Regions from separate parts of the Homo sapiens genome. Here all the other regions are linked to region 3. Evidence: fine-mapped expression QTL. A gene starts in region 3. Each other region holds a variant in brackets. All regions are shown on one strand. Distances are from middle to middle. Region 1 overlaps BFSP1 (beaded filament structural protein 1). Region 2 overlaps RRBP1 (ribosome binding protein 1). Region 3 holds the start of DSTN (destrin, actin depolymerizing factor). Region 4 overlaps BFSP1 (beaded filament structural protein 1).

Region 1 (5,715 bases), 65 kb after region 3:
GACCATTTGGATGTTATGTGTTACTCTGTCTAAAAATGTGAAGCCACAACTAGATGTAGCGCTTTTTATTGATTTCCAGTGCCCCCATGTCTGCTCAGGATTTCATTTTGGGACCTTGGAGTTCACATCCTAATTCCCATCCCAGCACGCACCACACAAAACTCACAGTGCAGCAGCTCTCAGGGGCTGCTGGAAAGCAAACCCGGGTCTGTGGTGGTCCCCTGAACTGACGATCGCAGCAGGAGGAACCAAGTAAGGCACTTAAAACTCCTCCTTCTTGTGAGACAAACCCTGGCTCAGGGACCATGTGCCTCATCCTGGTGACTGGGGCCTGTGTGGTTTCTTCTGAGGCTCTGACAGGATAGAATAAGGGTTGTATGTGTTTGTGTACATGGGGTGTGTGTGTGTGATATACATGGTATGTGTGATATATGTGGGATGTGTATGTGAAGTGTGTGTGGTGTGTGTGTGTCATGTGTATGTGTGTGTGCTGTGTATGTGAATAGGGACGTGGATACAAGCCCAGTCGTGGTCCTAGAGACCAGTGTTTTCCAAATGGCTAGTGACAACTCATTTTTGGATGTAAAATGAACTCAGTAGAATTGACTGGCATGTAAAAGGAAGTCAACAAAATGCTAGACTAAAATATAATAAGAAAAACAGAGTGTACAGCAAGTGAAAGGGAGGATTTGTTTTGTGAAGCCCTTGTTTTATCTCTCTATATCCATATGGATATGTTGAAATACACACACACACACACACACACACACACACACACCTACCTATCTGATGTGTATGGCTCGCAATGAGAAATGTGGTTTTTCCTGGGGCGGTGGTGATAAAGTTGAAAACCACTGCCCTAGAGATACTGAGAAAGATGAAGGAGCCCAGCCTAGATGGCAAATTCCAGTTCCAGGACAAAAAGAATGTTCCTCTCTTTATGTACAGGTATTTGTTGAATATCAAAATAAGAAATTTCACAACAGATTAACCTGGTTTCTGAGAACATGAAATGAAACCGCTGGTTGGCCGCCTGTTTCTGTCCTGAGTGGCTGCAGGAGGACTTCCTGGCTTTTCCCTGCTGCCCTCGTCTCTAAAGCAGGGTCTCAAACATCTCTTCTGTGCTGCCTCCTCCACTCCCACCCGTGGCATTCTGATGGAGACCGCTTCTCAGAAAAATGATGGTAAAGGCATAAAATAAAATACAGATAATTTAAAGGAAACCAGGCTGGGTGTGGTGGCTCACGCCTGTAATGCCAGCACTTTGGGAGGGCAAGGTGAGTGGACTGCTCGAGTCCAGGAATTTGAGACCAGCCTGGGCCACATGACGAAACCCCACCTCTACAAAAAATACAAAAATTAGCTGGGCGTGGTGGTGCGTGCCTGTGGTTCCAGCTACTTAGGAAGCTGACATGGGAGGACTGCCTGAGCCTGGAGAGGTTGAGGCTGCAGTGAGCTGAGACTGAGCCACTGCACTCCAGCCTGGGCAACAGAATGAGACCCCGTTTCCAAAAAAAAAAAAAAAGAAACTAATTATATTAAAACAGTTATCAAAATATTACTGAATCATTTTAAATAAAATGACAGATGTGCTTATACTCACTCAGTAACAAGCTATAGCATGTAGCTGATGAAACACGGCTGTGTCCATTTTCTGTTGCTGCCTTGATGAGTCACCACCAGCACCCGTGTCATCGCAGTTGTGTAGGTGGGAAGTCTGGGTGGGTCCTATCGGTTTCTCTGCTCTGGGTCTCAAAAGGTAGAAAGAAAGATGTTGGCCAGCCTGGGCCCTTGTCCAGAGGCTGTTAGGGGAGAATTTGCTTCCAGTCTCATTCAAGTTCTTGGCAGGAGTGAGGACCCTGTTTCTTTGCCGGCTGCTGGCCAGGAGTGGCTGTCAGGGCTGCCCAGGCTCCTTGGCTTCAGGCCCCTCCACGTTCGGAGCCGGCAGCGAACTCTGAACCCTCTTCCTGCGTCTCATCTCAATGACTTGGACTTACACGTTTCTCTGACTTCTGTTTTTAGGGGATAATCTTGAATAAACTCCTTTCCTTAAAAAAGGGTAACTGATTAAGAACTTTAATTATATCTGCAAAGTCCCTTTTTGCCATGTAACATATTCAAGGGTGTAGCACCAAGGGGAAAAGGTCACGGGGGCCAAAATTCTGCCTCCTTAGCTCTGATGAAAACCCAGACGTGGCTGGGTGCGCCCGGGAGCTCCTGACTCAGTGGGTCTGGGGTGTGGCCCGGGATGCTGCATGTCTAGGTGTCCCTGTGATGGTGCTGCGGCTGGTCCAGGAGCCACACTGAGAACCACAGGGTAAGGGCGGGTCCCAGGGAGTGGGCGAATGTTCCACCTGGTCCCCCTGTGTCCCAGGCTTGGGCCTCATTTCAAATGTTTGTGGCTGGGTTTTTGCTGGTTTTAAAGGTTTTAGTGGCTTCCCAATGTAGCAGCTAAGCTAGAGCTGAAGGAAGATGTGGCCGCACACCGCCGGGCAGGGCCCGC[T/A]CTGTGGCCGGAACTCGGTGGAGGGCGGGCCGAGAGAGAGCGTCTGCTAGCACCAGGGCCGTGGCAGCGGGTTCCGCCTATGGTTAGGGCGTCCGAAGCTTCCCGAACTCTCCACAGCAGGGGTCGTCAGGGTGAGGTCCCCGTCCCAGCAGCGGGGGCACCACCTGGGAACTTGTCAGAAATGCAGATTCACAGGCACCCCAGACCACTGACCCAGGAGCTCTGGGGCGGGCCGGTGCGCCTTGTTTAAGCCCTCCACGTGGCTCTGCGGGCTCAGTCTGGGAGACGCTGGGCGGACGATGGGAGAATAGTGCCTGGGCTTGGAGCTGGAAGCTGGAAGCCTCTCCTTCAAATAAGTGCACATATACCCGTAAGAGCCCCGGAGGAAGCACTTCGGACAGGTGGAGAGGAAAGGACAGGTAATTCTAGTTCCCTAAATTGCATGGACTGAGAGTTTCTGTGACAGGGAAGTAAAGAAAGTCACTTTTTAAAATTGCAAAGTGGGAACCGCCCATGTCTCATTTCTCATTAAAGTCACTTAGCACCATCTAGTGGTTTAGTTTGTGTAAGACAGTATGTAATGAGTTTCCTTTTTTTTTTTTTTAAGACAAAACAAAAACAAAAACAAAAACAAAAAAAAAACCTTACACCTAAAGGTGTCTGGGGTCCTAAGGACTGAGGTGAGAGCTCACCCCTCCAGATGGGGCTCGCGTCAGGCTCCTGCCTGTGTCGTGCCCTCAGCGGCTCACAGCCCAGTGGGGAGACAGATATAAACCAGGCAATCTAACGGTCCAGGCAGAAACAGCAGTCACCTGGCTCCGGATAAAGTTCAGGTTGCCACATGGCCCCACCGTTGGAGGAACCCTGGGCCAACCTCTCTTCTCTTCGTCTCCTGACCCCTCCTGCAGTTTCTGGGACCTCCCCTTTGCTCATTCCTTCTCTCCTTTCTGGAAGTCCCTTTCCTTCCTCGGTTCCCAGGACCGGTCCTGCCTCCTCCTGGAAGCCCCTTTCTTCCTCTGAGATGCCCTGGGCGTGCCTCCCCTGCTGGACTGCGGCCTTCTAGAGGAGGGTCCGTGTCTCATTCTCCTCGGCCAGGCTGGTGCTGGGTGGCAGTGGACGCCGTGCCACAGTGGCTCTCGTCACAGGCATCTCCATTCCTGTTGAGCTCCTGAGACAGGAGCTCTTACTGGTTTTCCTGAACACTCTTCCTTCTGATGAAAGGTTTAAATTATGGAGCTGTAAAAACCACATCGGTATAGACATCAGTCCACTTTTATAAACCAAGTCATCACTTCACTGGACTCAGCAGAATCCCGTAGAGCATCTGCGACCAGTACGGAGTTGGAGGGCTCTGGGCCTCATGGTCATGTGGGGGATGGGGGCTGTGGGGGCGCCCAGGACAGGAGCTCCTCCCGCAGTGTTCCAGCAGAGGATCTCCAGCCTTTAAAACATGCAGCCTTCTTCAAACAAACACAAATGCACACCCAAGAAAACACCCCATCCCTCCACCCCCTACCACTACCACAAAAACAACAATCACCACTTCCTGAGACATAAAAAGATTGCACTCCACTTGTAGGGTAGAAAGATCACAGGTGACTTTCCTGGGCTCTCATTTCCCATTCTGTGATGCTTTGTGGTTCTATTTACAGTTTAAAACTTTGCTAAGTGAAAACCTGCAAGGAGAGGTCTCTGCATGGCTCACACTGACTTTCCCATGTCTTCAGAGAGAACAGGCTGGTGTTGGCCTGTTGCTGTGTGGGAATGGGGAGTTTGCAGGGGCCCTGGAGACAGAGTGTGTGTGTGTGCACGCACGTGTGTGCTTGCATATTGTTGCCTGCAGCAGGGAGGAGGCTGAGGTGCAGGGCAAGGGTGGCCTGGTTCTGGGAGGTGTTTCAGACCTTGTTCAGGTAGATTCGAATCCTGCTGTGGTATTTATGGGCAAGCCACTTTGCCAGTGTGCCCCAGTTTCCTCATCTGTAAAGTGGAAATAATGACAGCCCTTCCCTGATAAGGTTGTTGTGAGGTTGATGAGTTGACCCAGCTTAGGACTTATCAGCATGAGCCACTACCCCCGCTCTGGGCTGGGGAACCCACACCCAAAAGGAACGGCCACCCCAGAGCTCTTGGGTCAGTGATCTGGGGTACATTCTCTTCATATGTAATTTTTTCTTTTACTCTTTATTATGGAAGATTTCAAACATAGAAAAGTGAGAGATTATAGGTGCTATGGCTCACGCCTGTAATCCTAGTACTTTGGGAGGCCAAGGTGGGAGGATCACTTCAGCCCAGAAGTTCAAGACCAGCCTAGGCAACATAATTAGACCTTGTCTCTACAAAAAAAAATTTTTTTTTAATTGGCTGGGCATGGTGGCATTCACCTGTGGTCTCAGCTACTGAGGAGACAAAGGTGTGGGGACCACTTGAGCCCAGGATGTGGAGGCTTCAGGGAGTCCTGATGGCAGCACTGCACTCCAGCCTGGGCAATAGAGTGAGACCCTGCCTGTCTCAAAAATTAAAAGTGAGAATAGTCTGTCTCATGAGCCCTCCCGCCCCATCCCTCAACACATGGCCCCTCTATGTTCTCTACAGCCCCACACACTTCCCTCACCATGTAATTCCAACACTTCTTTGAGATTTGGGGCTCAAAGGGGTCTTTTCAATCCCCATATTCCTTGAAAGTGTTTCCTGGAGTGTCTGAACACTCTGGTGTGGGTGAGATGTGGCTGCACCAGGCGTTAGTGTGTCTGACTTGTATTTGCTATTACAGGCGACTGTTTGAATCCAGATTTCTTGGGAGAAACAGAAACTGGATCACACTAGCTGAAACAGGAAGGGGACTCTTGTTTTATTCAGAAGTAATTTTAGATTTTTGAAAAGTTGCAAAAACAGCACAGTAGCTTCCAATATATACCCCTCACCCAACTTCCACAAAACCACGGGCCGATGATAAAAACCTGGAAATTAACAGTGATCCTGTCGCATTAATAGACTGCACTAAAATCTCACCAGTTGCTCCACGCGTGTTTTTTCCTGGTCGAGATCCTACTCACATTTAGGTGTCATGTCTTGATTGTCTCCCCCATACTGGGATGGTCCCCAGTCTTTCTCTGTCTTCCATGACCGTGATGCTTTGGAAGAACCCAGACCAGTGGCTTTGTGGCATGTCTCTCCTTTTGGGTTTCCCTGATGTTTTCTCAGGATTAGATGGA
Region 2 (5,715 bases), 78 kb before region 3:
CATTACCTCTGCTAGCACGTCACTCAGGGGATGCGGGGATGCAGGGTACTTGTTGCACTCTTGGGGAGTCTGGAGCTCACCCAAGGACCTGTGACCTTTCTGCCTAATGGACGGGGGTGGGTAACCCTGGGGACATGGCACTTCTGTCTTGGCTGTGGGCCTGCTTTCTGCGGGGCCCTCTTTCCCCAGCCTGCTGATGCAAGCCAGTTTTACTCTGTGGCCAGAGAGACCATTGTGTCATGGCCCAGGAGAACCCACCCAACCTCCATGAGGTGGCAAACACTCAGAAACAGGCATTTCAGAGGCCCATTCTTGCCACGTTGTCAGATAAGTCCATGTGGGAAAAAGAGGCCACCTTTGGGAGGTAGGATTATGGGTAAATGTTAGTATCTTCCTTTCACCCTTCTGCATTTTCCAGTTTTTCTATAACTTTTTTTTTTTTATGGAGAAGAAACAACTCCATTATGTGTCTCTAAGTCAAATAAACAGGCCCTCATTATACCAAAGCTGATGGAACTCTCATCCTTCTGGGTGTTTTGAGGCAGCCCTGTGTCCTCTGAGGAGCAGCAAGGAACACGTTGCTCCTTTTGGGGTCTGGAATGAGGAAAGGTAGTGCCAGCTCTTCTGAGGCCTCCAGAAGGAGGCCAGTGCGTGTCCCAGCCCTAGCACACAGGCATCTGGGAGGCATTCATGAACTGAGGTAAGGTGGGAAGTTAAAGGCAGTTCCCACATTCTGGAGCCTGGCAGTGCCGTGGTGGGAGGGGGCCTGTGAGCTCTGTGTCGTGTGCAGTCTCGCTGAGCCCCCATTCTACCCCTACAATAGGAAATGTAACCTAAAATCCCAAGTCGTGTTCTGCAATCTAATGGGGCTGGGGTCACAGGTCAGGGGGTATGGGGAAGAGTTGTCAAGCCCCCAGGAAACGGTATTCAAGGTGTCTAGGGTAGCAGGGCCCTTAAACAATTTGACTTCGTGATGGGAACACCCCTTGCTCCCAGCTCCTCACCCACCCACCCACCCACGCCTGTCCTCCCCATGTGTAGCCTGCTTTGCTCCAAACCCAGCGCTGCTTAGCACAGCAGGTCTGACGCCACTGCTCTCCCCAGCCAGGTGTTTGTTCAGATGTGCAGTTTAGGAGGCTGGTTTCCATGCCTTTATCCCTCGTGCAATTCTCTAAGGTGGATTTGAATTTTTACCTGTTTGACAGAAGCAGAAAGCAAAGCTCAGACTTCCCAGAAGTCATGCACATGACCAGCAGATGGCAGAGCGGCCGGTGTGGGCAGCCCCTCCCGAGGCCCCCGCCCTGCCCGGCAGGTGCCCCTGTGCCCTTCTCGCCGGCAGTTGCACAGAGAGGTGTACACGGAGATCAAGTCAGATACTTTTTCTTTTGAACCTAACTCAGTTTCTCAGGGTCTGAAGCTCTGAAGAAAACTCTCTGGGGCTTATGACCCTTTATTCACTTTCTGTGGAAGTTCTTCAAACCCAACTTTTTCTTTTCTTCTTCTTTTTTTAAAGAAGAACAAAAACATCCCCTAGGGAAGCGAGCCAAGTATCAGTGTGAGAAGCTGCTAGATGACACTCTTCCAGAAATCTCTTTTCAGCCACTTGAAAACGTGTTGAGGCTGGGACTCCGGTCACTGCCCCCAGACGGCTGTGGTCAGACAGCCTGGGATTAAAAATCCCCTGCCGTTTTCTGCAGGCATTAGGTAGAGTCCTAATTGCTGTTTAAACTGTATTCTCCTTGGGCCAGCCTGTGTGCCTTGGGAAGGGCCTTGCCCAGAGGTCCTCCAGGAATTGTCGTTCTTTTAAAAATATTGTGATGTGGGTTTTTTTTAACTCCAGGTATAAAATTGGTTTTGTTGAAATTTGGAGGAAAAAACAAAACTTTAAAGAGGAAAACAGTTCTTCAATCTATAGGATATTTTAAATTCCATTAGATACCATTAAATATACCAGTCCCCAAGTTTGTAGCCGATTACGTTTTTCTCCAACTAAAGGAAAAGGACTGATTGAAAGGCCCTGAATTGGGTTGTTCTTGACATTATTTGTACTGAGCTCCATTGCCCTTAAAGCTGCGGATGTGACCGTT[C/T]GTGGCATTTGGGGTCAAGTGCAGCTGCGCCTCCTTGGCCTGCTTCCTGTCAGGAGCGCTGAGCAGCGCTTGGGCAAGGCCGGGCTCTGTGGCCTGAGCTGGGCCTGGAGTCCACTGTTTGTGCACTGCCCAGGGCCTGCCTCAGCTGTGGGCAGATGAGCAATGAGTGAGAGCAGGAGTCGCAGTTTGCCTCCAGGAGCATTTGGTAGATCTTCATTTCCTCCAGGGTCTCATAAAGCTCACTTCCCCCACAGGCTCAGGAGGAGCCTTCACGGCCACAGTCCAAGAACGAGCAGTTAGAGGCCAGCAGTGATGTTGGCCGGAGCTCCTCCCTAGAGAGCGTCTTGCGTCCCACCTCGGGGTGGGACCCTGAAGGGAGCCGGCTCCTCAGGTTGAGAGAGACAGAGATGCCCTTGGCTTTGGGTCAGCAGGAATGGGGAGCTTGTCCTCAGCCTCTGAATCTTGGTCTGCAGAGGCTGATGACTGCTTGCGTGGTGCTGGGCTTCCAGGAGGCATGTGGGAGCCCTTTCCTGGGGCCCCAGGGTCTTCACCTTCTTACAGCAGACCTGAGTTTGGGTCGGGTGACTGGGGACTACAGGGCGTGGAAGGCACGCCAAGATTGCGATCTGGCTTGGGCAGCCATGCTGGGTGCCTTGGTCTGCACTGTCTGGAGTCACCCCGTGCAGGCCCGGAGGCAGCAGCTATTCAGACTACATGTGTGTGTCTGAGGGAGGCACCCTCAGAACTGATCTGGACAATCTCTTAGGAAATGAGAGTTTTTGCCACTGGAGTTCTTCCCCAAGCCCTCAAGTCCATGCTGTTTCAGGTTCCATTGCCAGAGTCCCTGGGTTGACACCTGGGCCTCTCTCCCACCAGCTCAGCTTCCTGAATACTCGGGCCCAGATCCTGGTCCTGGGCTCTTAGGACCCAGCGGGGATAGGCTCTTAGGACCAGGGTCCAGGCCAGCTGGTCTGCCTGCTTCCAGCCGCATCCCCCTGGGCATCCTGAAATCTTTTTCTCAAATTCAAACGCTCCTTCCTAGGCATCGCTTGTTGCCTACAGAATAAAATCCAGATTCCCAGGGCCTATGAAGACTTGGACCTAGTCCAACCTCGGGTGCAAGTCTGACACGCTAGGGCCCAAAGCCCCTCACCGTGTCCTTACCCAGCTATGCTTGGCCCAATGCCTTAAAGCCTTTCTCGGCATTGCTGCCACAATTGTTCTCCAGGTCCCCCTTGTGTCACTCTTCTGCCTTATGGCCCTGTGTCCTCTGCCTCTGTTGGCCACAGCCCAACCTATAACTTAACTTTCCAGGCCCAGCAATTTACGAACTGCTGGGTATGCAGGTGGTACATACTTTGTGTCTAGAGACCACCTGGCCCTGCCTGCCCTGATCAGGGCTGCTGGGCACCTGTAGCAGCAGCTGGAGCTGAGCCGGAGCCTTTTGTGGGGCCCATCCCAGGGCCAAGGCGATAATCCCCTCCTATTAACCACCAGCTGCTGCCAGGGCTCAGGCGGCAGTTCCTGGAGTGGTTCTGATACCCTCCCCGTGGACTGAGAGAGCCAGGTGTGCACAGTGCAGGGGTGCTCCAGCAGCTGATGTGGGGGGCTGGCCGCTGAGTCTCATGAGGCCACTTAGGGCTGAGATCCTCCTTCTATGCCTGAGCCCTGGCCATGGGGGATCCTGGAAATTATACAGAGAGAAAAGCCTCATCCAAGGACGCCACAGTTGACAGTGAGAGAGAACACTAAGTGCCTCTTTGCCAGATGAGTTTAATTTTAGGTGCCTGAGCCTCCCAGTGTGGTCGCAGAAGGGAGAGTCATTTTGAAATTTGGGGTGTGAGGTGCGTTATCTGAGCTGCTGTGAGCTGCTTGAAGGCCGGCCATGCTGATTTATTTTGCTGTGCGTTACCCTGCGCCAGGCATGGTTCCAAGCACGTTGCAACTTACTCTTTTCAGCCACGCTGTGAGGGGAACAATGATCATCCCCGTTTTGTAGGCAAGGAAACAGAAGCAAAGGAAGGTTAAGCCACTTGTCCAAGGACAAAGGTGGGAAGGAGCTGAGCTGGGATTCGACTCCAGGCCACCTGGTCCCAGAGGCCTTGCTCTGACCTTGGTGCCCCACTGCCCAAGGACAGAGGTGACCTGCAGACTGGACGTGGCCCACGGATGTGTTTGTTCATCTGTACAGTGGTTTCATTCATTTATTTGTTTTTTATTGAGTTAGCTGTCAGCAGTAAAGATGAGAAGATAGCACTTAAAAATCTCGTTTCCAGGCTCTTGGGCAGGCCTGTGGCTTTGAGGGTTCTGGCTCAGATTCCCCCATTGCAGCTATCACCTGGAGGTGAAGTGCCGTGCCCAGGACCACCCAGCTCAGGAGAGGCCACCCCCCTGAGCCCAGGCCTGTGTGGTTATTTGTCACAGTACCTGTCCCATTCCTGCAGGGCCTGGCCCCTGGGGTGTTGCTGTGTCCCCTGCCAGACAGAGGTCTGGATTATCCATCAAAGTGAGACACTGGCCTGCGTCTCTACTCTTGGGTCTCCTGCTCCCTGGTCACTCCCCAGGCCTCCTGGCCTGTCCCTTCCTGGTATTTCATACCCACCAAGATGGGCAAAGCGTTAGCCGCAGGAGCAAGCCCTCAGGGAGCTGAGCTTTTCCAGCATTCACTGCACCCTGGGCCTTTTGAAGTCTGTGATTTCACAGACTAGGTGTTGAGTCTGAGAGACTTAGTTTAGTGCGTTAAGATTTCACAATTCGGAAGATTACTGGTATCTTCGAGTATTTGCTGGAGCCCTAAGTGATGTGCTGGGCACGCCTTAGGCTCCCGTTAGTACGTTATTTAAATGCAACTCATCTGGAGGCCCAGAAATCCTGCCTCTGCTTCTGAGGGCTTTCCTTTTTTCTTTCAGTTGTGCTGCCCTTGATTTGGGGACAATTGAGACAGCAGAGTTTTTACCTAAAAGATTTAATGAAAAATGATTTGTAAAGTTATAGCTCTCTAAAAACAGTATAAAAGGTAGTGTTTGTATGAGTGTGGCAAAGGCTGTGGAAGTTTCTGGGGGGCCATGAGAGGTGGCAGAGGAGAGCGTTAACATTTTGCTGTACGCAGCTTTGCGTTTGTTTCGCGTGTTGCAAGTTTTTATTTTTCTGTTAAAATATCTAATAGAATGGAATTACGTTAGAAAGTTTTAATAAAGATTTATGAGAATGCCGCTCCGAGAACACTCTCGGGAGCACTCTGTGGACTGAGCCTGCGGCGGGTGAGCATGTGGCCATGCTGCCCCTGTGCAGGAAGCGGCGTCCTAGAGCGCGTGCCCTCCAGCTGCCTTATCCAGATGTTTCCCCACCCAGCAGTGCAGTAGGGGCCGTGGGGCCTGGAAGGGTGGTCTTTAAGGAGAGAGTTCAAGAGAGGCCAGAGCTCTTGGGTCACTCTGGAACCTCTGTAGGACCAGGGGCTGCCAGGAATTCAGCAGGGGGCACTTTGGGGGTCCCTGGTTCTGGAAAGGAATAGGCCAGCCAGTCCAGGAGAAACAGAATGTGAGCCACACACGTGTGAGCCATGGATGTGATGTAAATGTCCTCAGCCACATTTAAAAAGGCCAGCAAGAAACAAATGGACTGAATGTTA
Region 3 (5,715 bases):
GCTTAAAATGTTTCAAAATTATTATTTTAAAACTTGGAGTTGGAAAAGGTGATTTGTCTCAAGTCAATTAATCCTTTACAATCTGTTTTCTCATATGTTAAATAGGCATGTGAATACATGCCCAACCTATTTCACTGGGTTGTAGTGTTTTTGCTAATCACCAAGTATTAGAATACTTGAATACTGCGCCAATTAGTTCAGTCTGTGAGACCACAGTCCAGATTAGGATAAGGTTAAGGGTTAGATTATCGTGCAAACCTTTTAACTCTACTTCAGGGGCAAGACTACACTCTTACTTTCCAAGAAGCATAAAAGATACTCTGGTTACAAGAGGAGCTAGGCAAGTCTAGGTGTGATGTCTCAATCCATATCCAGTAGAACTACTGAGCAAATAACCTTAGTAACTTGATGATGGGCTACTAAACAATCTCTGTATAAGGAGGCTGGCACACCCAGTACACACACACACACGTTTTGTTTGGGGTCTGTAATTGTGGTTCACGTGGAGGCAGACGTTGTTTGTTTTTTGTTGGAGGAGACATCTGAAAACATCTAATCTCATCCTGAAGCGCCCAGCTGGTTTCAAACTGCTTTATTTCAGGTGCTTCTAAAAGACTTGGTGAGTACAAGGAAGTGATTCTGCTAATTTAGAACAAACCCATCGGTAGTTAAAATTTAATCTTAAAAGAAACTTGGAACCAAGCATCTAACCAAAAGAGCTAAAAGCAAAGTGCTAGACTCTGGGATAATACCCACAATATTCTCTAATCACTGAACTAAACAAAGATGCTCCTGCGCTCATAAGGCTAAAAACAAAAATAACCTTTAAAAATGGGGGGTCTATAATCTGAACTCTAAGAGTAACTTGTAAGGTCTTCTTGATCTCCCTAAAGCCAACAATTTTGAAGCGTATTTGGAAATCGCTCATTTCTAATTTTTATTTCTCCCACTCCTCACAAGAACCAGGAAATATAACAGACCCTTCCTTCCTTGAATTTAGTTAAGCTTTAACTAAAACTAAGCATTTAACTAAAGGTAAAATGTTTGGTCTCTTATTTTCAAACAGAAAAATAAAGTCTGTATTAGCCACTCAATAAAAAAGCATAATGTCAAATCAGAAGTCTCTAGAGCAGACCCTAGTCAGCTTCAAAGCACTTTCACAGAGTGAATGGTCTTAAGCGTACCATAACTCAAAGCCCCTAGATTAAGTCTTTCAGTATAAAGTAGCATATACATTTAAAATGTTATTAAATTTCTAATAATTAGATATTAAAAAGACTCAAGATGCTGATACTTTGTAGCTTACAGCATTAAACCAAAGAAGAACCAAAAACTGAACAGTATCAAATCCCTATTACATACATATCTACAGTCATCAAGAAACTACCGGTTTATCTTTTCTTTCACTAAGGGGCCGCCTGCATGTTCACGGAAGTTGTAGTAACTTAAGAAAACCAAAACTGTTATACAGTGAAAACAGTTTGTATGCAGATAAGCTGGTACCAACTGCTTCTAGACAGATGCAATTACAGTGTAATATTTCTAGCAAAGTCTGGTAAGGCTACGCCTGCAAATCACTGACCAAAAATGGTAACAGTGTGTGCACACTAACGAAAACGACAAAATGTTCCAACTGATAGTTCAGTTGAGAATACGTTTTTAAATAGCTAATTAGAGTGACAGTGTAAAGGGGGAAAATATGTAAATTAAGCAAAATGTCCATCATATAGAATATACTAATGAGCACCTGTTTACTTTCTGGTGACTCCAGTATTTTAATGGTTTTTAAAGCTCTTAAATTTGGTTGTATCAGCATCCCAGCATCATGCCCACACCTTGCGCACCAAGTTCTGGCAGAGTCCAACTGTCTACAGGTCAGAAAAAAAATTCTAACCATACACGGACAGATCGGGCAGGGAAGGGTTAAAACAGACACTGCCAAGCTTGACAAGCACGACGAGAGTGCTGCTGGAAGCCGATTGCCAGATAAAAAGAAAAAAACAAAGGAGCTGCAAGGCCACCCCGTTCTAAATCATGCCAGGATCCTGCTCGTTAGCGATCATTCCGTGCTCTAGGACTGTTCCATAAAGGCTTTATCTTCCTTATTGAGATGGACAGACCTCAAGGGCTGGAACGCGCACAAGTCACCAAGCGCCTCAGCGCCAGCTCTGGGGAAACCCACGCCAACAAGGACGGTGGCCGGATTCCGACGCCCCCCGCCCCCCACTCCCCGGCCTCGGTGTGCAGACCCCCGGATGGATTTCACAGAGCGGGTGGGGGCGCTCGACCCCAGCCAGTTGTTGCAAGGCCGGGTCTGGAGACACCCGCAGAGGCCACGCTCAGGGCGGCGGCCTCGCCCCAGCTGGGAGCTGCGCAACAGCCGCGGATCCACCCCGGGGCGCGGGGGCCCAGCCAGGACGGCGGGAGACGGAGGCCCAGAGACCCCCCCTCACCCGCAGCCCGGACACTGCAGCCGGACCGGGTCCCTCCCCGGGCTGAGGCACGGCTCACCCCCTTAGCCCCGACTCCGCGGCGCCCCAGAGACACACTGCTCCCGGCCGCCTCGGCCCACGCCTCGGCCTCCCTCCTACTCACCATCTTCGCCGCGGCGGTCGCAGGGACGCGGGGGAGGGAGCCGGCGGGCAGCGAGTATGCAGACCGTCCTCCTCACGGCTGCGGGACCGAGAGACCCAGCGCTGAGCTGACGCGGCGGCGCGAGCTTACCCCGGGGCGGGCGCGCCTCAGGACGGAACGCGGCTGCGCACGTCACGCACCGCCTGCCGTTGCTACGCAACCAGCCGGCCAGGCAACGCCCCCCCGGCGGCTATCCAGAGTCTCGGAGGGGAGCTTCCCTCATCTGCTGAAGGCTGCGGGGCAGGGTCCGCCTCACCAGAAAGTGTTTAGGGGTGGGGGTGCGTCCTCTCTGGTCTGCAGGAGGCTAGAAGGCGGACTGGGCTGGCTCCTGCTGGCGAGGGGCGGGCAAAAGATGATGGGGGAGGGGTGGCCTTCCTTCGCCTCCTCGGCGGGGCCACCTGACGCCCCACCCACTGTGCAGGCATGGCCCGCGCGGGGAGGCAGCCACCTGGCCAGGTGTGCCTGCCGCTGGGGCGGGGCGAGGCCGTGGAGGGGAAAAGGAGGGGAGAGCCGGGGGAGAGGGGTACAGAGTGTGGGAAGGAGGGGGATTTGGAGGGGAGAGGCGAGGGGCACATAGTTGGGGGAGGAGGAGGATGGAGAGGGGAGGGAAGAGGTGAGGGAGAGGGGACAGTGTGGGGAGAGGAGGGGGATGTGGGGGGAGGGGCGAGGGGGCACTTAGTGGGGGAGGTGGGGGCAAGGGGAGAGGTGAGGGAGAGGGACACAGTGGTGGAAGGAGAGAGATGTTGGGGGTTGGGAGGGCAGGGCCCGAGGAGGGGGAACGCACTGGGGGAGGACCCACGGGAGCGGAGTCGCGGGCCGCGGCAGCGGGGACGCCTCCCGCATTTTTTACCTACTTTGGTGCGATTCCCGCCGCCCTCCCCTGATTGGCCCAGTCTGGCTTGTCCTGCCCTCGCGTGAGGGGAAAAAAGTCTGCACATTTTTCCTCCTTCCCGAGGCGACCGTGGCCATGCAGAGTGCTCTGTGAGTCACCGTTAATTTCAGGTCTGGAAAAACAAGGAGCATTTATTTATCTTTGGGAACTGCCGGGGAAGGAGGCCGGCGGCGCGCAGGGGTGTGGCTGGGAAAGGCCGCGCTGTCCCGGGACGGTGGCGCCAGCCCCGCCGCTCAGTTCTCCGGGTTTTTAATTTGGAATTGTGTTTTTCTAATGGGCGGTTGCGTCGGAAACACGGTTTTCAGAGGGCCCAGATGAATCCCAGCGTTTTTGCTGCGGGTGTTTTTGTGGGAAATAAAGGGAACAAAGAATTTTATAAATTAATTTAGGTTACCGAGAACATCATGGCCTCGACCAAAACTATTTTAATTCTCCAAATATGAGACTTTTGGACAAGATGGTCAGTATTTTTTTTTCCGGCACTACGTAAAATCTAGGTTGTATGTGGCTTTTGTTCTGCCCCACTCAACATAGGAACCCATTTCTCATTACCCTCGTTCTTTTTAAAAAAGACAGTAAGTTGTGCAGTTCTAAGCCTTTACCACCTGAGACATGATTTTTGGCGGGCTAGAGCAGTGGTTCTTTAGCATGCATCAGAATCACCTGGAAAAGTTGTTCAAAGCTAGATTTGTGTGCCCCATCCCCAAGGTTCCCTCACTGCTTCTAAGATGATGCTTGAGAATGGGCATTTCTAACAACTCCTAGGTGATGCTGAAGATGCCAGTCCGAGACCACACTCCTGAACTGAGAAGGAACCCCCCTGTATCCTCCTGCAGCTGGAACCCTTTGCTTTTCTGCCTGCCTAGGACCCTGTGGCCCTTACACTTCTTAATATTCAGACTTCCTTTCTAGTCCAAAAGTGAATGGTGCTCATTTAAGGATACATGCCTGCCTGCTTGCTCCAGCCTCTCCTGCATTTCGTCCTCCACTCTGCCACCAGAGTTAGGTCCAAACATAAGACTGGTCTTGTTACATTCTTGCTTAAAATTTGCTGTGGCTTCCTCCATAACCCTCAGCAGGTCAGTCTGGCCCGTCTGCCTCTGGCCTCAGCCTACTTTTTCTGCCCTATCTCCCATATCTTCCTAAGTGCCCACTGCCCCTCCCAGACGAAACTTCTCATTCCAGAACACCTCTTACTAGTTCTAACTACCTTGATCATGGGCCTGCTTATTTTTTCAGCCTGGGATGTTCCTATCACCCTTCGCATCTGAAGACTTCTCTTACCACTTCCCAAGGATCAATAGTAGTTCCTTCTTTTTTTTTTTTTCGTGCCCCGTACCCCTTACAACTCCTTCACCCCCCTAGTTCCTTCTATAATCCCAGAGTTCATCACTTCTCAAATCTTTTTTTTTTTTTTTTGAGACTGAGTTTCACTCTTGTTGCCCAGACTGTAGTGCAATGGTGCGATCTCGGGTCACTGCAACCTCCGCCTCTCGGGTTCAAGCGATTCTCCTGCCTCAACCTCCCGAGTAGCTGGGATTACAGGCATGCGCCACCACACCCGGCTAATTTTGTATTTTTAGTAGAGATAAGGTTTCTCCGTGTTGGTCAGGCTGGTCTTGAACTCCCGACCTCAGGTGATCTGGCCACCTTGGCCTCCCAAAGTGCTGAGATTACAGGCCTTAGACACCGAGCGCCCGGCCACCTCTCAAATCTTAATAAAGATCCAAATCACCTGAGATCCTTGTTAAACTGCAGATTCCGGGGTTGAGGGGTGGAGTCTTAGATGGCCCCAGGAGATGCAGATGCTATACTTTGAGTTAGGAGGTTTCATGGTTTTTTCCCTACAATTACTGTAGCTCTGTAATTATTTATGTGCATTTTCCATTACTACCAGATAGCTGGGAGTTCCTTGAGGTCATGGGGTATTTAAGATGCGTATGTATGAACTGGCATAGCCCCTGATACATAGTAGGTGTTTAATAAGTATTGAATAAGTGAACCAGTATCTGAAGATGTTTTACAATTTATCAAACTTATATATCAGTTTATCATAACTTAAGATGAGCCCCCATTTTTTTTAGGTCCCACTGAACTTCAGCCTCTGCATTTAACACCCAGCTTTTCTAGACATTGACATTCCTCCTCTCCACACGGAGGGAAAGAGTTTTCATACAATGCTATAGACT
Region 4 (5,715 bases), 47 kb after region 3:
ATATTTACTATCACAAACTATATACTTAAAATGGTTAAGTTGGTAAATTTTATGTTATGCATATTTTACCAGCCCCCCCCCCCCCCCCCCCGCCATACAGAAAAAAACAGAAAAAGTGATACTGGCTTACCCAAAATGTCATTGGCTTATCCAAAATGTTTCTCACTTGTGTAAGGTCTGGTTAAGCAGTTTAGTATGATACTGTACAGTATTTGGGACACAGAAGGTTCTGTGTGGCCTTCAGGAAGGCAGCATTCATGTTTCTGGCTGCAGGATGGAGGGAGGGATGGAAAATGAGAAGCAAAGGGCACACATACACCATTACTTAACTAAAGGTATCTGGAAGCTGCCATGCAGACTTATGCTTCCATCCCATTGGTCAGGACTTAGTCACATGGCCACACCTGGCTGCAAGGAATGCTGGAAAATGTAGTCTCCCTTCTAGGCAGTCCTGTGCTTGCCAAGCATCAAGGGCTCTAACTCCTGAAGACAGCAAGAATGGGCATTTGGGGGTCACCTTATAGGGAACAAGGGGAGGGGTCATTTAGGAAGGAATCTTCTCTCTTTAGGGTTAAAATTCCCCCAGAGGGACGTGCCTCAGTTGTCCCAGCCGAGCAGAAAAGGAGCTGGGGTACTTATGCTCCAATTTGCCTCATTCAGAGTTTGTGGGCTGCTCCCAGAGGCCCTGACTCCCTGGCACGTCCAGCCTGCCCCACCCATTTGCCCAGAGGAGGCCATCGCTGTGTGGGGAGTGATGCTGCTGGGAGGAGGGAAAAGTGTGCGGAGCATCTGCCTGAGTTTCCTCATCTTTAATGCAGCACTAACAATAACTGCTTTCTTCTGGGGTGATGTAAGGATTAAATGACATAATCCAGAAAAACTGACAAATTACATGTGTCAGCAAATAAAATACTATAGGAAATCCAAGTACGGTCAGGTTAATGGTGGTGTAGATTGTGCAGGGCAGTCTCCCATCTCTGCCACTGCTGCACTTGGGTTATAGATAGGCTAGGATATAATTCCCTCATCCTTGGGGTGGCTGGGAATAAGGCTGTAGGGGCTGGGGTTGGTGCCTTCGGGCTGGGAGACTCCTATTCCGCTAACTGCCCCTGGTTACCCCACGCGGTGTGCAAATGGTACCACTTTCTGATTGGGAGGCAGTCAGCTAGGAAATGCAGCATTCGTTAGCTACTACTTTAAAATTAAGACCCTCTCCTTAAAGGAGAGGGCATCGTACCCAGGTTGAATTTAATGCTGATTATGTGATCCATACATGTGAAAGCATGGTAGTTACCCAACTCTCACTTATGTGTCCAATTTGCAGGTATGAAAATGAGTGCGAATGTCAACTCCTGCTAAAAGAAATGCTTGAACGGCTTAACAAGGTGAGCGGAACACATCCTTGGGTTTACGTAGCTTAATTACAGTGTTGAATGGAATGGTGGAAGTGCAGGTTTTACAGGCTTCCTCTTTGTGTTACTTTGGCGGTCACTACTTCTTTTGCAGTCACTCTGTCTCTTGACTTGTTAATTTCAATTGAGTCTTTATGAGTGAACTCACACACCCATACACACACCCCTCTCTCACGAGAGAAACACAGACTATGAAGCTTGTTGGTTATGCTAGGCTAGCAAAACCTGCCGGCGTTACAGTGACAAGCTGCTGTTTTACTTGTCAGACATACTGATGCCCAACACCAAATTTAGGAAGGACCTTGCTTTGGGCAGTGGTTATTTGGACACAGTGATACCTCTGTCCTATTGGCTAAGAGTTTTGAGATTGCGGCTCCACAGAAGTCTCAAGATAACAGAGGAAGAAATTTCTATTTCCTCTAGAGTTCCCTCTTATAGCGTGACCAATAGCCCCAGGGGAGATGCCAGGGGTTCTTAGCCACTTGACTTTCCTGCAGGGTTATGTGGAGTTGCTCTTTACAGAACAGTGGTGATTTCCTTCTTGGGATTCTTCATCATGATTCTAACTAACTGATTGGATTTTCTGCTTTTGCTGGGAGAATCCCACCACCAAAAAGCAGAATGATTCTGGACCACCAGGGTTGTACAGAACCAGGGATGGCACATAGCTTTAAGCATGGCCCTTTTCTGATCGTTTTTGAGCTCCAATGTCAGAGCAGAACGACCCATGGAGACTATTTAGTGGAAAGGCTGCTTGATTAGGGCACATGGGCTGCCCTTCCCCGCCCCTTCCATGCCTACAACTCATCAAAATTGCTGACAAAACCGCAGACTCTTCCCTGCCATGCCCAGGTATGCTTTAGGCTTCTTTGCCACATGGAACTCCAAGCAGCCTCTTTGGACAGTCAGGGTTAGCGCCGGATGTTTGCCATCCCTTCACTTTGTCCAGCCTTTGCTGTCTAGGATTACTCTGCTGGTTGAGGGGAAAATCAGAACTAGAATCTAGGGGAAACCCAATTTTGCTTTGTCTATGTTACCTGCCCCTCTGCGCGTGAGCACGTATGATATGTTCAAACCAGGACAGTGTGCAAAAGAGGGTGCAGTTTGTAATAACACAGGTCAGTCAATGCAGGCTGGGACTCTCAGGACAGCTAGTAGGACACTTGGGCACCCTAGATAGAAACACAGAGATGGCAGTGAGAATGCACTTCAGGAAGGCCCTGAGGACACACGCTCAATAGTTGGCTTGGAAAACGATGGCCTCGAGCCTGTTGGACATCTGAGCTGGGAGTTGGGCCTTATTAGTGTCTGACATCACTCTGCTATTCTGCTGACACCTGTAGCTCATCCCCATTCTTCTGTTTTGTGCAACCTCAGACTGCCAGAACATGGCCTTCAGACACGGGGACCCAGCACCCTTCACAGCACCCCTCAGGCCCTCCGAGGCCCTCTCCCCAACA[C/T]TTCCACATGTTGCTTTGTGAGCATCTGTCCTCACTTGTCACTCACGCAGTGCCATCCTGGGTACTCTTCAAATAAAGGGGAGAAAGAATGGGGTTCCTCTTTTACCCTTGATGGAAAATGACAGTGAATTTAAAAAACAAGCTTAAACTTTCTGTTGTTTTTCTCTTTTTACAAAAGCAATCCATATTCTCAGTAGAAAAAATAAGGCAACATAGATAACGAAAAATAAGGAAAAGGCATCGCATAATACACCTTCATGTATATTGTGACATAGAGTGTGGACATTTGAAGTATCAGCCCTGTAAGAATATTATGAAGGTTCTGGGGAAAGATGCTACCAAGAATGTGGGTGAGACCAGCACAGGCAATTAGCATGACTGGCCCCTGGGTCCAAGTAAGACAGTACTGCCCGCAGGTGAGCTGCAGAGCCCCAGCGAGGAGTGTAGCCTGTGACTAGGAACCTCCTGCTACAGCTGAGCATCTGTGAGACTGTGGGCCAATTGCCTTGTCCCTCTGAGCCTCGGTTTTTTCATCTGTGAAATGGAATCACAATACTCCCCACCCACCATAGGAGTGAAAGTGCCTAGTGAGAACTAAATGATGTAATAATGTATATGACTTGCCCATCACCTGGTGGTGCTGAATCCCTGATCACTGTTATTACTACAGAGCACTTGATGTGACAGACACCAGCTTGGTTTTCTCCACAGTGTGGGTGCAGAACCCTGTTGAAATGGGAGGTGACTTTAGAAAGTGCATGGAGGAGTGATATTTAATAGTTGTGAATTTTTTATGATTACCTGTTATTTACAGCGGATGACATAAAATATTCCTTTCCAAATAAACCTACGTAAGAATGAGTACCTTTAAAGACAAATACAGAGTGAATAAGATGCAGGTGGTCCTTGGATAATAGTAGAAATCATAAACACAGCAGGCAGATGCAGGACGCTGGGGAGGGCCTTGTGCAAGCCTGTGGGAGCCTCAGAACAGCCCGTGGTTATTGGGGGGGCAGGTTTTATTCTCAGAAATGACCTATTCCAAATCCTTCTCTGGGCCAGTGAGGAAACTCACCCTTGATGAGGTTAAATGACTTCAGAGCCTCGCAGCTCAGCCGTGGTAAGTGTAGACAGGAGTTGGGGTCTTTTGTATTTGTGGTTCATTCTCTACCTCCAAAGAATAGTCAGGGAACCGGTATTACTCAGAGGCCAGACACGAAGCCAGAGAGTTCTCGGCTATAGGTGGCCCCATGGACCTTGATGTTGGTGTCCTGTCCACACACCTTGGGCCATGCCAGTGGTCACTCAGACACGCTGAACACCCTGATCACTGCCTGCATCTCGGGCTCTGGGAACATGCATGGCCCACATCAGTATAGTCCAGAAGCGCTGGGTGTTAACACCCCAGGAACAACCCTCAGTTGCTGTGGACTGGGATAGGTGGATAAGTTCCCCACCCCTCATAGTGATGGTTCAGAGCCACATTCCACATGGTCCCTCAGAGGGACCCCAGCCGTACTGAGCTGTCTACAATGGCAACCTGCTCGTCACATTCCTTCATTGGTTTTGTTTCCTTCTCTGGCTCACTAGCCTCCCTTACCTGTGCTTCCTGGGATCACCTCCCAGATAAGCCACAGGTACCCAGTCTTTGCCTTGGGGTCCACTTCTGGAGAACCCAAATAGTCCCTCAAGGGCAGGGCCAGGTGAACACTGGACCTTTTTGTTCTCTGCTGAGATCATCAGATGACATGAAAGAGGCTAAAATTCACATCGCATCAGCTGGTCGTGTGAGTGATTTTGGCCTGCAGGTTTTGGGTATTTTCTTACATCAGATCAACGAGGTTTTAGCTCAGTCTCAGTGGCCATTTCCTTTGGTCTGACTTGTGGAAGGGATTCATCCCTGGGTGTGGCCGTGGGACATCACTGATCCAGTCTTTGCATCCTACTTGGAGGATATTGCAGTGTATGTGAAAGGACTGATGGCCCCTGCCTTCACAAAACCACCATGCATTTCTTCATGCTGCCCGTGTAATCAAGCCTACGGAAAGAGCTCCTGTAGTTTTATCAGCCAGATAAATTATAGTAGGCCACTCTTTGCTGTGCACTTAGAAGTGAAGTAAACTCCTCAACACGTTACCTACAACCTATGGCCAAAGTTATTCAACTTCTCAGCCTTTTGATGTAGTAGGAATTCCAGGTGACTTTAAAATATTTGGGTTTGCTAACTTCTAGATCTCATGGTCACCAAATATATACGTATGAAGTTACTGGTCTGCTATGATGCCTGATTTGCTTATCTTGAGGAAACTGTAAGCAGCAGACTTTAAAATCTCCCTCTCCTTTTCTCTTTAAAATTCCCAGAATTTTAAAATGATGTGGTTTCTAGTCAAATGCTTTCACTTAAAAACAATTTTAAAAATATTTAAAGGCTGACATATATACTTTTTCATGTAATTCATGTGTCTCTTAAACGTGCCTGTGGAAAGCAGCAAGAGGCCAGGGAGTTTAGGGGATAAAATGGTGCAGGCATGAAGCCCTACCTTCAGGGCTATGCCTTTGTATGCCAAGAATTCCTCTGAGCCCGGAAATGAACTTCCGGAGAAGAGAAGGAGAGGAAACTGGGAAGGAAGAGGAGGAGTCTGGGGGTGGAGAGGCAAGAGGAGTGGAGGAAGAGTCAGGATGAATGCAAAGGGAGAGACAGCAAAGTTGAGGAGACTGAGGCAGAGGCAAGAGAGAGGGTGGAGAGATGTAGAATTTGTCCAGTGCCCTCCAGGCCAACATTAGCACCTGGAAGAACAGCCATAACATTTTTGGAAAGGTTTTTGACATCCAGAGTTGAAGGA

The links.
Region 1: its variant is fine-mapped to the expression of DSTN in whole blood (TOPMed, PIP above 0.99). The same link has a PIP of 0.9 or more in blood mononuclear cells.
Region 2: its variant is fine-mapped to the expression of DSTN in whole blood (TOPMed, PIP above 0.99).
Region 4: its variant is fine-mapped to the expression of DSTN in whole blood (INTERVAL, PIP 0.92).

What each region holds. Positions count from the first base shown.
Region 1 is chr20:17,502,336-17,508,050 of GRCh38, reverse strand. The region is part of intron 5 of BFSP1 (beaded filament structural protein 1); the gene reads left to right. Among named protein-coding and RNA genes, the nearest start is that of BFSP1, 26 kb to the left of the region's middle. RefSeq lists an enhancer at 3,016-3,539. The variant T/A (reference allele first, on the strand shown) is at 2,504.
Region 2 is chr20:17,644,890-17,650,604 of GRCh38, reverse strand. All of the region lies in intron 3 of RRBP1 (ribosome binding protein 1), which reads left to right. Among named protein-coding and RNA genes, the nearest start is that of RRBP1, 34 kb to the left of the region's middle. RefSeq lists silencers at 1,241-1,370, 2,020-2,109 and enhancers at 1,522-2,225, 2,290-2,379. The variant C/T (reference allele first, on the strand shown) is at 2,088.
Region 3 is chr20:17,567,092-17,572,806 of GRCh38, reverse strand. It overlaps DSTN (destrin, actin depolymerizing factor), which reads right to left and starts at 2,732. Exons shown (of 4, transcript NM_006870.4): 1 at 2,596-2,732. The coding sequence starts at 2,598. It also overlaps a transcript of BFSP1 not described here. RefSeq lists silencers at 2,292-2,581, 2,602-2,791 and an enhancer at 3,202-3,769.
Region 4 is chr20:17,520,518-17,526,232 of GRCh38, reverse strand. It overlaps BFSP1 (beaded filament structural protein 1), which reads left to right. Exons shown (of 8, transcript NM_001195.5): 2 at 1,325-1,385. Among named protein-coding and RNA genes, the nearest start is that of BFSP1, 8.0 kb to the left of the region's middle. The variant C/T (reference allele first, on the strand shown) is at 2,873.